4 linked regions of the Homo sapiens genome follow. The protein of the gene in region 2 purifies or fractionates together with the protein of the main gene of each other region. This does not show direct contact. Each region holds a gene or a part of one and is shown on either strand. Other genes may lie near its edges.

The links. Proteins that work in one complex are often made in the same cells at the same time.
Region 1: the proteins of DERA (region 2) and NCAPD3 purify together in Homo sapiens (co-immunoprecipitation; one large-scale study listed by IntAct). This does not show direct contact.
Region 3: the proteins of DERA (region 2) and AGL fractionate together in Homo sapiens (co-fractionation; one large-scale study listed by BioGRID). This does not show direct contact.
Region 4: the proteins of DERA (region 2) and CBS fractionate together in Homo sapiens (co-fractionation; one large-scale study listed by BioGRID). This does not show direct contact.

What each region holds. Positions count from the first base shown.
Region 1 is NC_000011.10:134,154,468-134,157,967, reverse strand, and holds part of NCAPD3 (condensin-2 complex subunit D3), read left to right. Parts: coding exon 1-40; intron 41-872; coding exon 873-950; intron 951-3,500.
Region 2 is NC_000012.12:16,032,373-16,036,899, forward strand, and holds part of DERA (deoxyribose-phosphate aldolase), read left to right. Parts: intron 1-169; coding exon 170-282; intron 283-3,859; coding exon 3,860-4,009; intron 4,010-4,317; coding exon 4,318-4,374; 3' UTR 4,375-4,527. UniProt on the Homo sapiens protein: Catalyzes a reversible aldol reaction between acetaldehyde and D-glyceraldehyde 3-phosphate to generate 2-deoxy-D-ribose 5-phosphate. Participates in stress granule (SG) assembly.
Region 3 is NC_000001.11:99,877,861-99,881,360, forward strand, and holds part of AGL (glycogen debranching enzyme), read left to right. Parts: intron 1-2,062; coding exon 2,063-2,186; intron 2,187-2,771; coding exon 2,772-2,935; intron 2,936-3,215; coding exon 3,216-3,317; intron 3,318-3,431; coding exon 3,432-3,500. UniProt on the Homo sapiens protein: Multifunctional enzyme acting as 1,4-alpha-D-glucan:1,4-alpha-D-glucan 4-alpha-D-glycosyltransferase and amylo-1,6-glucosidase in glycogen degradation.
Region 4 is NC_000021.9:43,062,336-43,065,835, reverse strand, and holds part of CBS (cystathionine beta-synthase), read left to right. Parts: intron 1-140; coding exon 141-220; intron 221-314; coding exon 315-449; intron 450-563; coding exon 564-633; intron 634-1,844; coding exon 1,845-1,936; intron 1,937-2,757; coding exon 2,758-2,883; intron 2,884-3,440; coding exon 3,441-3,500. UniProt on the Homo sapiens protein: Hydro-lyase catalyzing the first step of the transsulfuration pathway, where the hydroxyl group of L-serine is displaced by L-homocysteine in a beta-replacement reaction to form L-cystathionine, the precursor of L-cysteine.

The DNA.
Region 1 (3,500 bases), on a different chromosome or scaffold from region 2:
ACTTTAAATTCTGGAAGCCCAGAAAAAACGTGCAGTCAGGGTAAGCCTTATGTTTGGTGCCAGACACAGTAGAGCATTTACAGATGAAAACACAGAACAAGCTACTTCTTATTCCTTTCAAAGCGGTGTGTTTTCTTATCTTTAAAACAAATAACGTTAATTGGGCTTTTAGGATCATGGGTAGTAAAACAATGCATATTTATTCTAGGAGATTTGGAAAATAGAGTGAAATATGAAACTCACCCATAGCAGTGAGGCATTCCTTCCTCCAGCTATTCTGTTCCTCTTACACACACGTGTTTTGTTTTGTTTATGGAATTGTGATCTGTGCGTGCATTGTTTTATGACCTGTTTCCCTGCATTCTTAAGTCAGATGTAGTAGATGTAGTAGACAGCTTCCATGAACTTTTCTTTCCAACCTTTGCTTTCAGTGGCTTTATAGCATTGTGGCTGTGGAAATAACTGATTTATTACTATCCTGTTCTTTGAAATGTTGATTTTCAATTTTTCCATACAAATACTATCACAGTAAACATCCTTGTACATATAGCCTTGTATGTATGTAATCCTTGGGATTAATTCCCAGCAGTCAAAGGCCATGGATATTTAAAAACTTTGGATAGTGTCAAACTGTCCTCTATCACTTATGCCAAGTTAGACTCTTTTATTTTTTTGAATCCTAATGAGAATGGACATTTTTTCTCATGTTTATCATTTATTTGTATTTCTTCCTGAATTGCCTCTTTATAAGAAAATTGTAAACACTAGTGATTTTGACTTTACGTCTTGCAGATATGTTTTCTCATGTGGTTGTTTTGCTCTTCGTTATTGTTTGGGGGTATTTCTGGATAGCAGCACCTTTTCTGTTCTAGTGTCTTCATACAGTTTGGAGCAAGAGTCGAATGGCGAGATTGAGCACGTGACCAAGCGGGCCATCAGCACCCCCGAGAGTGAGTAACTGATCGGAACACGTGGGCTTCTCCTCAGTCTCTCCTGCATTCGTGATGTGTTTGCTAGAGTCGCAGTAAAACTCCTTCCGGTGCAGGATAGTTCTGATGGTCAGAACCATGAGTGCATTGCTGAGGTGGAGTATTTCACAGTGACCACGGTCGCTTGATCCATGAGCACTGACCGAGTATGTTGTTCCAGTGTCGTTACATTCAGTCAGTCAAACACCACAGTGGCCCGCGGAGCAGACAATGCCGTTGAGGCACAGGTAGGTTGGGTGACTGACCCAGTGGTGCCTTCTGGAGGCGGCCCTCCGTGTCTCTGGGCTGTCCGGGTGCACTGGGCGCTGCTGGGTGGGCCTGCTCCCAGGGCGGGCAGACGTCAGCACCAGCAGGTACCATGCACGCTCTGCAACTGCCAAGACCAGAGACCCGGGGACCCCTGCTCGGAGCCTGTGTCTCATTCCCCTCCATGTTTTTTCCTACTGTTTGTGCTTTTCCTTTGATTTCAAAACAGAGGTGAGTTAGGAGAGTTGAGTATTCTTTTCCTATTATCTTGTGTGATAGCTTCATATTGTGTCAAACCTCATAAAAACCATTATTTTGAGAAAACTCTTACAGGAAGAAGAAATGCTTCCTGTCCTAAATCTGTGGAGTAGTGGCTAGGCCCTGCCGCCGTGTCCCTGTGTGCCCCTCGCTCTGCGCCCGGCTGTGCACAGTGCCCTCAGCAAGCTGCATCCAGCCCCGCTCGTCCCTGGCCATTCCACTCCTCACTGTTTCCACAGACCACAGTGCCTGGAACCTGGGAGGTGTCAGAGATCTCCTCCCGGAGACTTCTGGGAGGGCAGAGCTGGGCGCTGAGCCCAGGCCTTCTGGTCCCAACTCTTGTGCCCCTTCTCCAGCCTGTCTCCTAGTCCTGACTGCAGGGGAAGATGAGAGCGTGCTAAGGTGCTCTTCCTGGTAACAGAGCAGCAAGGTGTCCTGCCGTTCGTTTAGTCACTGCTTCAGTCAGCTCATGTGTGTGGAGCACCTGCTGTATTCTAGCTACTTGCTTGTTTGGTTCTGTCACACTGATGCTGTGATCTCTTAGAATAGTTAACAGGTTAGAGGTAATTTTCATCCAGGTCCCCCTTTGAAGGGAGTTTATCCCACCCCCACCCTCAGACGACAACCGAATCATGACGGCATTTGTCATTAAAGGCAGTGGGTAATTTGGGATCCTGCGTCGTGGACAGGTGCGATGTTCTGTGTGTTAGAGCTTGCTGTGTGTTCGATGTTCCTGGCTCAGGAGTGCCAAGAGCTTCTATTTTGGCAGTGAGGTGCCATATGCTGAAGAAACGGGGAGAACGCATCTCATTTTCGTTGTGCTCATCCTGAGTCCCTGATGTCAGTGTTGGGTTGTTTCCTAGCAGCTCGTGTTTCTCCACAGGGCAGCCTGGCGTGGAGGGTTCATGCCGCCCTCATCTGCCTGTGTGGAGCCACGCTTTGTGCTGGAAATCAGGCGCCCGGTGTCATTGAGTTGGTAGAGTACTTGTTCTTGCTCCAGGCTCTTGGACATAATATTCCTGCTGATGCAGTCTCTGTCCGTCTCTCTTTATACTGAACCAGGAAGAAATGCCTGGAGGTCTCCCCTTCCTGGGAGAACTGTTAGATAGTTTAAAAGCACTCAGTTCTGTTTTCTCTGTGGTTTATACGTCCAGATTCTTTTTGGCAACTTTTAGTTTAGGTGGGGGAGACTGTCAGGAAGTGTCTCAGCTCTTCAAAGCTGGCAGGAAAGATGCCACCCAGTTCAGCACCAATTCACAGTGGCTTTGCTAAATGGAAATGAAAATTAGTCAATTTTCAGAGCGAGGATTTTAACTGAAAATCTGTGGGGGTTTTAGCAAGTCCCTGTTACTGTTACCATTCGGGTGGCACAGACGCTGCTGCCTTCGATTCTACGCACAGTGCATGGGGGACGTCAGAGCCCCCGCACCCGGGCTTCTGTAAAGATGGGAGACTAATTTCCTGGAGTGCATATGGGCTTCCAAACAGGAAGAGCAGTGTGTGTGTCAGGAAGGGAATTTCATGTGACAGCACAAGGAGAGACTTCACCGAAACAGAATAAGCAGATCTAGCAGTGATGAGGAATTCTCTACCATCGTCTATTAGTGACACTCAAGTAGCCATCGGGTACACAGCTGCAGTGCGCTGATGAGCTTTGAACTGTAAATGGGAAGACACAGTCCATACTCAAGACACCAAGTGGAGAACGGGGAGCGCTCTGAAGCTGCCTCCTCGCATGTGCTTGCAGAAGGGCAGCAGGTTCAGTGGTACCAGCAAGCAGCTGCCCAGCCCGTGCTGTTCCCGGGAGTGTGCTGGTGGCAGCTTATGCACTGGGTACAGCACCACCCAGGAGGGGCGAGGCTGCACCACCCAGGAGGGGCGAGGCTGCACCACCCAGGAGGGGCGAGGCTGCACCACCCAGGAGGGGTGAGGCTGCACCACCCGGGCCTCCAAGACAGGGTGGCATGTGTAGGCAGATGGGGCGGTGGGGGGGGGGGTGCAGAGAAG
Region 2 (4,527 bases):
ACATAATCATTTTAAAGGGAGATTTTGGTTTTAGTTTTTCCAATAATTAATGAAAAATAACATTGGGTTTCTTCGGGAAAAAATTTACACAACTCATTTCTCCCACTGACTCAAAAGTGTAAAAAAAGAATCTTTAATTAACATGGAGTTTTTCCTCTTTTTGTTTTAGGATCAGATTTTATTAAGACCTCTACTGGAAAAGAAACAGTAAATGCCACCTTCCCGGTAGCTATAGTAATGCTGCGGGCCATTAGAGATTTCTTCTGGAAAACTGGAAACAAGGTATATTATTGCCAGCAAATCTTTCTTCAGAGTAAAGATAATGTTATTTATAATACTAGTTACAGCCACAATAACTGTCTTTATATGGAGAAGTTGTGAATGAATTACCTTTATTAAGATAAATGTTTAATTTACCTTTCATTATAAAAGAACACACTGATGGAGAAAAATTGTGATGAACAGAAAGTGAGTTGTGAGTGTGGGAGTGAGTATGTGTGATCAAGATGTAAACTCACTTTATGTCCTTTTGTTAACCGAAGACAATTTTGTCACTGACAAGAGATTCCTAAATGGGTTCTTTAACGAACTAATTCTGCTGCAACACAGAGGCTTTCTCACAAGGTGTTGGCCAGTGAAAACAGGTTAATGCAGAAATTAAACTTCCTTGAGGAATGGAAAGAATTGCAGAGTAACATTTATTGAATGATAAGCTGTGGTGGTGATATGAAAGGTATGCAATATAATGGGAAACAATCTTTTCCTGTCATTATTGAAGGACACACATAAATTGGTTTTTCTGTTGGGAAACCCCCGGTCCAGAAAAACTTATTACTTTTAATAATATGAGGTGAAGAGAAAATTCTCGAGGAGATGAACTTATTAAACAAAATAATGAAATGCTGTGAAACAGCAGGGAAAAGGTAGCTAGACGTTATATAGCTCTTGAATTAAATATCAATTTTTGCGTTTTATGGAAGTTGGATGTGCTCTTTGGAAGACTGTTAAGCTGAGGAGGGTGTATACTAGTTTTTGTCAGCTTTTCGAAAAATGATACATATTTTTTGAAACATATGAAGTTAAAAGGAAAAATGCGTATGAGTTGCTTTTTTAAAAATGAGTTTGGATTTTCCTTTTCATCTCAAGTTACTTGTTTAGCTGCAAATTATCTCAAAGGATTTTTTTTTTTACATGATTGGAGAGCAAGGTTGTGTGTGTGTGTGTGTGTGTGTGTGTGTGTGTGTGTGTGTGTTTAATGACACTTTCCCTTCCTGAGAGGCATCTTTTAAATCCAGTCTCTTGATTTGTGCCAAATAGAAACCCAAAAAAGACCTTTAATCCTTTGTCCATTGGATGTGATGACTTTATATGTAAGTGTAGCTTCAGTTTATTTTGGAATAGTGACCTTTTTTTTAATATACTGTTTTATGAGAGGAAATAAACTCCTTCCAGAATTTTCTCACTTAAAATAACTTCACATCTTAATTACGAATAGGATAAATATCTATTGTGAACTACATGAGAAAGCTGACCCAACTCGAATAACCTCTACCTGGTATCCTTTCTGCAACAATCCAAATAAGTTAAAAGAGTTTTTGTTTAGATAAGCTGTAAAAATGATAAATCTATCTTTGGTCCTCAGTTGAAACTACCACCACTCATTTGATTGTGATTCTCATTCTTAGCCAAAGAATATCAAAACCAAATGTGAAGCTTTTCATACTTACAGATGCCTGGGCCCCCATCCCTGGTGGTTTTGGGTCTGGCATAGTCTTCAGGCATCTGTTTGCATTAAGTTCCATTGCCAGGGTTCAGACCTGCCATTGGGGACCCAGTCCTGTTTTGTTCTCAACAAACATTTATTGGGTAGTTAACCATGTGCCATGTTAACCTGTGTTAAATGCTAGGAATGGAAAAATGAGTATGTTCCTTCTCAGGAGAGCTCTTAGACAACAAGCAAAGAATGTCAATGAAATTTTTAAGTGCTCAGTGTTCCAGGCCAGAGTACAGAGGGAGGGACACTTTGCTGTCTTTCAGTCCTTTCTTTTTAATTGTATTGATTCTTTTCCTCGGTAATAAATAAGTCCATCCTAGTTTTATTAAGAAAAAGACAGGTACAAGCCAAATTGTATTCATTTAATCATATTCGATTTCAAACAAATAGGTTCTGTGTATGTGTTTGCAAATCAGGTGCAGCCTTTCGGGTTGCTTGACAAGTTGCTTGGGCAGCCCTTAGACTATAAAGTTTCTACGTCATTGATTTAAGGGTGTTTTAAAATGCGATAGGCTAGCTTCCAGACCATGATTAGTGTCACTCCTGAGAAGCAGAGGTTTAATATTTCATAACTGATTTCATTGCAGATTTATGTCTTCCATATTCTCTTTAAAAAAAAAAAAGATAAACTTATGTTAGAACCTCTCTGGAAACAGACTTGCTGACACAAACTGAACTGTATAGGAAATCTGTAAGAAGCACTGCCTAATTGACAAAAATGGTCCTATGATTAACATGTATGCTAATATCAACTAATTGATTTTTTTGGCTTATTCTCAACAAATAACCTCATCCTACTTAACCCCCTACTACCTTACAGCTTGGGCTCCAGAGTAATAGCAGATATGGTTGGAATCCGTGCACTGCTACTGCTTAGTTGTGTGACGTTGTGTAATTGAGGCAGGGAAACCAGTTAAAAGACTTTTACTGATATTTCCTGTGAGAATTGATAAGGGTCTAAACTGAAACAAGTGAGAGTGCAGTGGAAAGAGTGCATGTGAGGGGGTAAGGAAGGTAAGGAGGTAGAATTGTCAGGACTTAAATATTGATTGGGTGTGGTGTGGCCAGGGAATGGTGGAGTTTGGATTAAACTATAAGGTTTCCTGCTTGGGTTGATAATAGAATATATTCATTTAATGTCTCCCTTCTCTAGCATTCTGTTAGCAGTCATCTGCTGGTGCAACCAGTCATAGCCCTGAGTGATAAAACGTGAGAGATTTAGTACTCAGGCTCTGAGGTGTTGTTTTGACCACTACCATCTACAGATTCCCAACTCTACTGGATAGTCAGGTTCCTGAAACATGTAAATCCAGATAATCAGAGTTTTATTGTATATGGAACATATCTTTCATTTCCTAATGGATCCAGGGACATCATTTACGAATATCAGATATTGGCTGAATTCAGCTGTGTTATGATCAACCTTAAAGACTACTGGACTATGAGGAGCCCCTCACGGTGTTTTTCTACTGCCCTTATGTAACTGGTCTGCCAGCTTTTTAGAACTGTGTGTGCCTGCAACTTAGAAAAAAAATCCCACAGTTAAATTGGTTAAAACAACTGTCAACTTTCCTTGCTTTTTTGCTGCCAGTTTGGTTAGGGTAACCTTGCAGCCTTGCTGATTCTGTCCTTTGATTTTAAATGCACGTGTCTTTTGAACCTCAAGATGAAGGCTGAGAAGTGACTCTACAGGCTTACTTGTGGAAATGTAGAATGAGTGGGCTTTGCTTTTGTGATCTGTTTTCCTATTTATTGACACCTTCCTTGTTTATTCCAGGTTCACAGCTATAGTCTAGATGGTGGAGGTTTATGACTTTCCAATAAGTGAAATGTTAATGAGGGTTATTAACCCTCACTAGTGTCTGTTTGGAAGTAGTGACATTCTTCCAAAAATCTTGGAAAAGTTGTTTTGTAGTGTGAATGAGCATGAGTCACTGATCTAAGCCCTTTCACTGGATGAAGTGAAAAGATTTTTTTTCAACAAAAGAGGGAGAGAGAGAATCAAGACTCTGATAAACATAGTACTATTTTTAAAAGAAATCCAATAACAATAAAGATTGTTCTATTCTCTGCCTTCCCATTTAGATAGGGTTTAAACCAGCAGGAGGCATCCGCAGTGCAAAGGATTCCCTTGCTTGGCTCTCTCTTGTAAAGGAGGAGCTTGGAGATGAGTGGCTGAAGCCAGAACTCTTTCGAATAGGTGCCAGTACTCTGCTCTCGGACATTGAGAGGCAGGTGAGTAATCATCTCTGTCTTTGGAATAAATTAACAAGTGTTTTTTGAGAAAGGAATTGAAAAGTCAAATTGAGAACTGGAGATAAAAACTCATCTGATTGACCTCATCCTACCCAATCCTCTACCTTTTCTTCCAAGCAAACCGCCATCAGAAGTGAGTAGGGTGGAGATTCTGCTGAAGCACATACTAGTGAGGCTTTCTAATGAAATGTTCATTAAAACTATTTATTATTATTTGATAGTATAATTATTAACTGATGTGTATAATTATAGAATGATTGTTAATTAAACTCTGCTTTTCCTCACAGATTTACCATCATGTGACTGGAAGATATGCAGCTTATCATGATCTTCCAATGTCTTAAATCAGTCACCAGTTCCAGAAAAGTTCTTTACGACAATGTTTAAAAATTATTTTTCTACGTAATTGCTAAAATTATTTAATTAAAAAATTGGGCAGTAGGTAACTGGCATTCCTCTCTTTAAAATTTCTACCGAACTTAATGGAATGGAAAAAG
Region 3 (3,500 bases), on a different chromosome or scaffold from region 2:
AGAAATTCAGTGTTCCTTCCTAGCTTTCCTTAAGTAAACTATGCAGGTAAATGTTTCCTTTTGCTAGTTGGACACAAGCATTGATTTGGTGGTAGTATTTATCACTATTGCATAATTAGCATAATTCTAACAATCTTTTGCAGTTGTTATGGAATACTGGGCTATAAAATATTTAACTAGCTAATTTTAAAATTTTAATTTAGGGAAGTTGATCACGTTTCTGATAATATGGAGTGCAATCATATTGGCTACTGTGAATACATAAAATGTTAATTTTTGTTATTTTTAGGTTGCTTTCAATATATTTTAGAAGTGACTGTGAAGGTGAATAGCTTATTACACATTATAGTGGTGTGTGCCTATAGTCCCAGCTACTCGGGCGGCTGAGGCAGGAGAATCACTTGAACCCAGGAGGTGGAGGTTGCAGTGAGCCGAGATCACACCACTGCACTCCAGCCTGGCGACAGAGTGAGACTCTGTCTAAAAAATAAATTAATTAATTAAATTAAATAAAAAATAAACATTAACATTATAGCATATTGAAGCCAGTCTAGCCTCATCGATTTAATTTTTATTATTTATAAAAATTATAAGTGTAAACATAAACATTGTCTATTTCTCTTTGAGCTCTTTACAATAACTTCTGAACAATGCCAATACTTATAGTATTAACTTCTATCTAATACAATCTTTGTAATTAAACTCATAATTTTCATCCTGCTTATAAGTTTTTTTTGTTATTTTTAGAAACCCTACAGTGGCACTGCTTATAAGATTTTTGATACCTTACTAGTGACCAGTGTCACTTAGGTGTTCTTTGGAAATGTGTGCTTACCTAAAAAATGTCTATTTCTATAATATTAAAGCAGTATTATAATATATATTTCAAGTCCTATGATGAAAAATTGATTTGATTTGGAGGGATTTAGTGAATATTAGTTAAGCTGGTAGAACATTGTTTAGTTCCAAAAAATGACGGCTTTATTTTATTGTGCTTTTAGCAATAGCAAAAAGAAATATGCTTCTAAGATTGTTACATGGCAGAAAAGAATGTTCAAACTTAATTTACTTAATTTTAAATTACAAAATCTAGGATTCTACTTGTTAGCTAATAGAGTTTCAAGTATTTTATTAATCTTTGTGCAAATGTTGTGTTTAACAGTTTGGAACCAATCTGATTTTTTATTATAAACCAGTGTTTATAATAAACAGCTAGATAGATAGCACCAGTGTTAAACGTAAATCACACAAGTGGAAATTGTAAGGTGTAAGAGTTTTTAAGAGTTATTTATCATCATCTGTAGGAGAAACTGGCTTCAGTCTGGTCAGACAAATCTAATCTTTCCAACAGCTAAGTAATTCACCAGCAGGGAATTTATGAATAATTATTTAGTCAACCACCTGGAAATTAAGTCTGATTAAAGTTTTAAAAATAAGCAAGCAGGCCCAGGCACGGTGGCTCACGCCTGTAATCCCAACACTTTTAGGCTCAGGCAGGCAGATCAGCTGAGGTTGGGAGTTTGCAACCAGCCTGACCAACATGGAGAAACCCCATCTCTACTAAAAATACAAAATTAGCTGGGTGTGGTGGTGCGTGCCTGTAATCCCAGCTACTCGGGAGGCTGAGGCTGGAGAATTTCTTGAACCTGGGAGGCGGAGGTTGTGGTGAGCTCACATCATGTCATTGCACTCCAGCCTGGGCAACAAGAGCGAAACTTGGTCTCAATAAATAAATAAATAAATAAATAAGCAAACAAAAAACAGGGAGAAAACCTAACAGAATTGTAGTGTTATGATTTACATTTAGTAATATGAAACTAACATTTTTCTTCTTCTTTTCCTCTCTCATGTCTCAATATCTTTGCAAAATCTAATCTTCCTTTTTAACCGTTTTCTTCTCTTGATAAATTCTCTTGTTTCTATGTGTTTTGGTATGTTTGATATCTTGCTGCATATTTTTCTATGTCAAATCATGCCTCCTTTTGTCTCTTTCCTTCCTCCTATCTTGCTTTTCTCTTTCTGTTACATTTATTTGTTACATTTGTCACTGTGCTTTTTACAGTACATGTTGGATGCTGCTAGGAATTTGCAACCCAATTTATATGTAGTAGCTGAACTGTTCACAGGAAGTGAAGATCTGGACAATGTCTTTGTTACTAGACTGGGCATTAGTTCCTTAATAAGAGGTAGGCTTGTTGGAGTGTATTTCCCTCTAAAACTTTAGCTTTTGTTTAAGTAGATTAAAGGATTTAATAGCTTCATATGCAATGCTTAATAATTTTTTAACACAGTTAATGTTCTTCTAAATACTTTGTATGACATATTCTAATATAACTCAGTCTATTTTTATCAGTATAAATTTCTACTTTGGGGTAAGATACCTCATTTCAAATTGAAAGACCAGTAGGATGAACTGAAGACTCACTAACAAAACCATTTTTTGTTGTTGAAAATATGCAAACCTGTTTTTCATCTTCTACTGGGAGATATGATGTAATGTTTAGATGTTTTATAATCAATTTTGTATAGCTTACATCCCAGTAAACAACATATGTTCCCTTTTCCTTACATGAGCCATTTCTCCAGTTAAGTTATGGGGAAAACTTTTTTGTCACTTAAACTAGTAGACATTTGTTTAAATCCTTAAAGCAGTTTTATTTTTTATAATATTGATGTGGTCTTTATTTTGAAAATCATTTATGAGAAGAAATCTAACCTCTTCCTGGACATAAATAATGAAGATTGTTAAAATATTCTGTAATGCTCTGCAGAGGCAATGAGTGCATATAATAGTCATGAAGAGGGCAGATTAGTTTACCGATATGGAGGAGAACCTGTTGGATCCTTTGTTCAGCCCTGTTTGAGGCCTTTAATGCCAGCTATTGCACATGCCCTGTTTATGGATATTACGCATGATAATGAGTGTCCTATTGTGGTAAGCACCTAATCTTTTTCATGTACTTATTTTGCTAAATGCTTTGATATTTAACTCTCTGACACTTGGTCACAATCATACCCATATACTTCAAAATAGTGTCTTAGATTTATAACTGATTTATAATACATAGTTTTCAGAATGTTTTACTTGTTTAAAAGCAAATTAATTTACCTTATGAATTTATTTATGTAATTATCCTTTTACTTCATTATGCTATAGAATAGCACTTTGCATTTGAAAGAAAGCAAACTTTTGCTTTGTTGTTGTTGTCTTCTAGCATAGATCAGCGTATGATGCTCTTCCAAGTACTACAATTGTTTCTATGGCATGTTGTGCTAGTGGAAGTACAAGAGGCTATGATGAATTAGTGCCTCATCAGGTTTGTTTATATGTTGTTTCTTAAAACCTACATGGCCAACAACTTTGGGCATTTTTATTAAAAAAAATTCATTGTAATTAAGATGTATCCATGCTAAATTTTACCTTTGTCCAGATTTCAGTGGTTTCTGAAGAACGGTTTTACACTAAGTGGAATCCTGAAGCATTGCCTTCAAACACAGGT
Region 4 (3,500 bases), on a different chromosome or scaffold from region 2:
GGGCAATTTTGGAATCCCACAGAACCCTCTTCCCTGGGCCCTAAGGGAACCGGCATCGGGGTGTGCCCCTGTGTCCCAGGCAGGGGCGGGGCAGGGCTTGGGGGGTCACTGGGCCCCTCTCACCCTCTGTGTGCCCTCAGGGATCGGGCTGGCCCTGGCTGCGGCAGTGAGGGGCTATCGCTGCATCATCGTGATGCCAGAGAAGATGAGCTCCGAGAAGGTGGGTGGGCGTGGCCAGGGGCGGGGTCATAGGGCAGGGGATGAGGGTGCCTGGGCCAGGCGGAAGGTGCAGGCCACCGCTTTCCCTCCTGCAGGTGGACGTGCTGCGGGCACTGGGGGCTGAGATTGTGAGGACGCCCACCAATGCCAGGTTCGACTCCCCGGAGTCACACGTGGGGGTGGCCTGGCGGCTGAAGAACGAAATCCCCAATTCTCACATCCTAGACCAGGTGAGGCACCTGGGGCCTGGAGACAGGCATTCCCTAGGAGGGTCTCGGTCAGGGATGTGGGGGTGACTGAGGTGTCAGGGGTCAGCTCACGGGCTCTGCTCTCTTTCTATGCAGTACCGCAACGCCAGCAACCCCCTGGCTCACTACGACACCACCGCTGATGAGATCCTGCAGCAGTGTGATGGTGCGTCCCTCTGTCCATCTTGATTGCATTTATCCCTGGCTGCCTGGGAGTGTACACATCTCTTGCCCTCTCCTTGGTGAACTCCTATTCACCCTTCAGAACCCAGCTCAAATGTTCCCTCTGTGAAATGCTTTTCTAGAGCATTTCTCTAGAACAATTTCCTCCCTCCGTTGTGCCCTCTTGGCCTCCGCCTGTGGTTTACCTGTAATAGCAAACACAGGGCATGGCTGTATTTGTTTACCCAGCAATCTCTGCAGGTCTGCAGGGGCTCCTCCTGCAGATAATGCAGACAGCGAGTCTGTTCAGGGCCCAGGCTGGTGCTGGGCTCACAGCTTGGACTTCATTTGGGATCATGCCCTGACTCGGCATCAAATTCATCTGCAGAACAGAGCTGGTGACATCTGCGATGAGCTCACTCTCTGTTACAAGCATGAGGCCGGCTCCTTGGGCCCTTTTCCAGGGACTCGGTGCCAAGGCCTGTGGGGGTTGGTACTGAGGTTTTCCCAAGAGATCCCTTTAGAGATAAGTTGCCAAGAGGTTGGCGCCCTGGCTTCCTATTGGGAATCCGGTGTTGGCATGGGCTGGAGTACACCCTCAGTCCGTGCCCAGGAGCCGGGCTGTAAGGTCCAGGCATTTGGTTGTTTGGGCTTTATGTGTGAGAACTCTCTCATTTGGCAAAAACAGTCCTGTCTCAGCATGGGTGCCCAAGCTGCTCCGTCTCGCTGAGTCTTTCCCTGCTGTGACTTCTCCACCAGATGCCCGCGCTGGCGGCCAGCAGTGTGAGCGCCCAGCGAGTTTCTGCGCTGAAGCCTAAAAGACTGATTCCATTTCCTGTGTAAATTCAGTTAACTCACTCACACCACGCAAACATCCAACAGCCCACGGAGGTGGTTAATTCACAGCCTCCCTCTGCCCGCCCTCAGCGCCTGCACCCCCCGGACAGGGTCCTGTCTTTCTGCATCCAGCCAAATGGGGGTTTTAGGGGTCGAGTGTCACTGAGCAAAGACTGGGCTGGGGTGCCCCAGGCTGCCTGTTTCTGAGGCTTTCACAGACCAAGGGCAGCAACGAGGGCTGCTCCAACTGGAGAAGAAGTTTTTCTTTTGAACTTTTTGGTTACCCACCGTGGTTTGGGCTGAGTGTGTTTTCAATGATTATTACTATGAGTGATGGGCTGGCCAGGCAGGGACCCAAGAATGTTATCCGTCCACCAGGGAAGCTGGACATGCTGGTGGCTTCAGTGGGCACGGGCGGCACCATCACGGGCATTGCCAGGAAGCTGAAGGAGAAGTGTCCTGGATGCAGGGTGAGTGGTGTGGCCGGGCCGGAGAGGGGCAGTGCGGAGTGGCCCCGGCTTCTGAGCTGAAAGCTGTCATTCCTCACGGTCTGCTCAGCACGCTGTCTCCCGCGGTATTTCTGCGCTGCCTGGGAGGTGTTTGGGAAGACAAGGGTGCTTGACACATAAGGGACCAGCAGCTCGTGACCCGAAGGAGCTGGGGCTGGGTGCTCGCTCACCGGCCAGTGTCTTGGAGAACCTTCCTGCGCTGAGTGGGGGGTCGGAGTTCCAACTGGGGGCCTCTGAGGATCAGCCAGGAGCTCTAAGTCCTCTGGTCCTGAGTCTGCCCCTCAACTGGGGCTTGTGGGAGTTGGGAGAGGGTTCCTGGACTCGGGGTTAAGAGCAGGTCTGAGGACGGGTGCCTAGAAAGGTCCCGCTGATGAGACAAGGGCGTTCTCTCCCTGTTGCTTGCCCTTGAAAAAGACGTCACTGCCCAGCAATGCCCTTTGTCCCCAAAGGCTCTGCTGCTCCGCCGCAGGGTGGTCTGTCTGGACTGTCCTGGGGGCCCCGCTCCGAGAAGCACCCCGGGGAGGTCAGTTCCTCCCAGGCACCTGCCTTTACTTCTGAGCGCCCTGCACTGAACATTTAGGTCATTACCGCTTTAATACTTGGAGCCTGGGTTCTTGGGTTTCTCATCCTGCCTCTGAGGCTGGGAACAGGCCACCACCCACAGGCAGATCATTAACAGGCAGTTGTTAACGGCGGTATTGGCCACTCCCATAATAGAATATCGAGGCATGTCCAGGCGGGGCTTTTGCTGGCCTTGAGCCCTGAAGCCGCGCCCTCTGCAGATCATTGGGGTGGATCCCGAAGGGTCCATCCTCGCAGAGCCGGAGGAGCTGAACCAGACGGAGCAGACAACCTACGAGGTGGAAGGGATCGGCTACGACTTCATCCCCACGGTGCTGGACAGGACGGTAGGTCGAGTCCAGAGCCCGGCCACAGTGCCGGTGCAGCCTGTAACTCACCCTCACACTGGGGAGCCTGGCTGACCCTGGGCCCCAACCAGCTTCTCCACTGAAACAGAAGGGCAAGCCCCGCACGCATGGTGAGAAGCTGGTCTCGAAGGTCGAGACAAAGTAGACTGGGGGACGATGTCCGCACACGTGGCCTGACCTCACCAAGGGATGTAGCCCAGGTGGCACAGGCAGGGAGCAGGGAAAACGTGTGAAAATTAAGGCCCCGGAAAAGTCTGTTAAGAGCCAAAAAGCTGACTTTGGCCTGAGGGAGAGCAGAGACCGAAGGGCCGGTGTGGGTCACACGGATGCTCAGTGGGGCTGGCGGGCAGTTTTGCTGTCTGCAAAACGTGTTGGAACTGGAAAGTCTGCAGACGTGCCGATCCCAGGGGGAGAGGCTGGGGTGAGACCTCTGGGGTCCTACCGCCTAGACACGGGGTCCACCATGAGGCTGTTCACCCTCTTGGTCACGTGGGAGCGGCTCCCACGCTGACGGGCTGTGGTGGGGTCCTGCTCAGGTGGTGGACAAGTGGTTCAAGAGCAACGATGAGGAGGCGTTCACCTTTGCCCGCATGCTG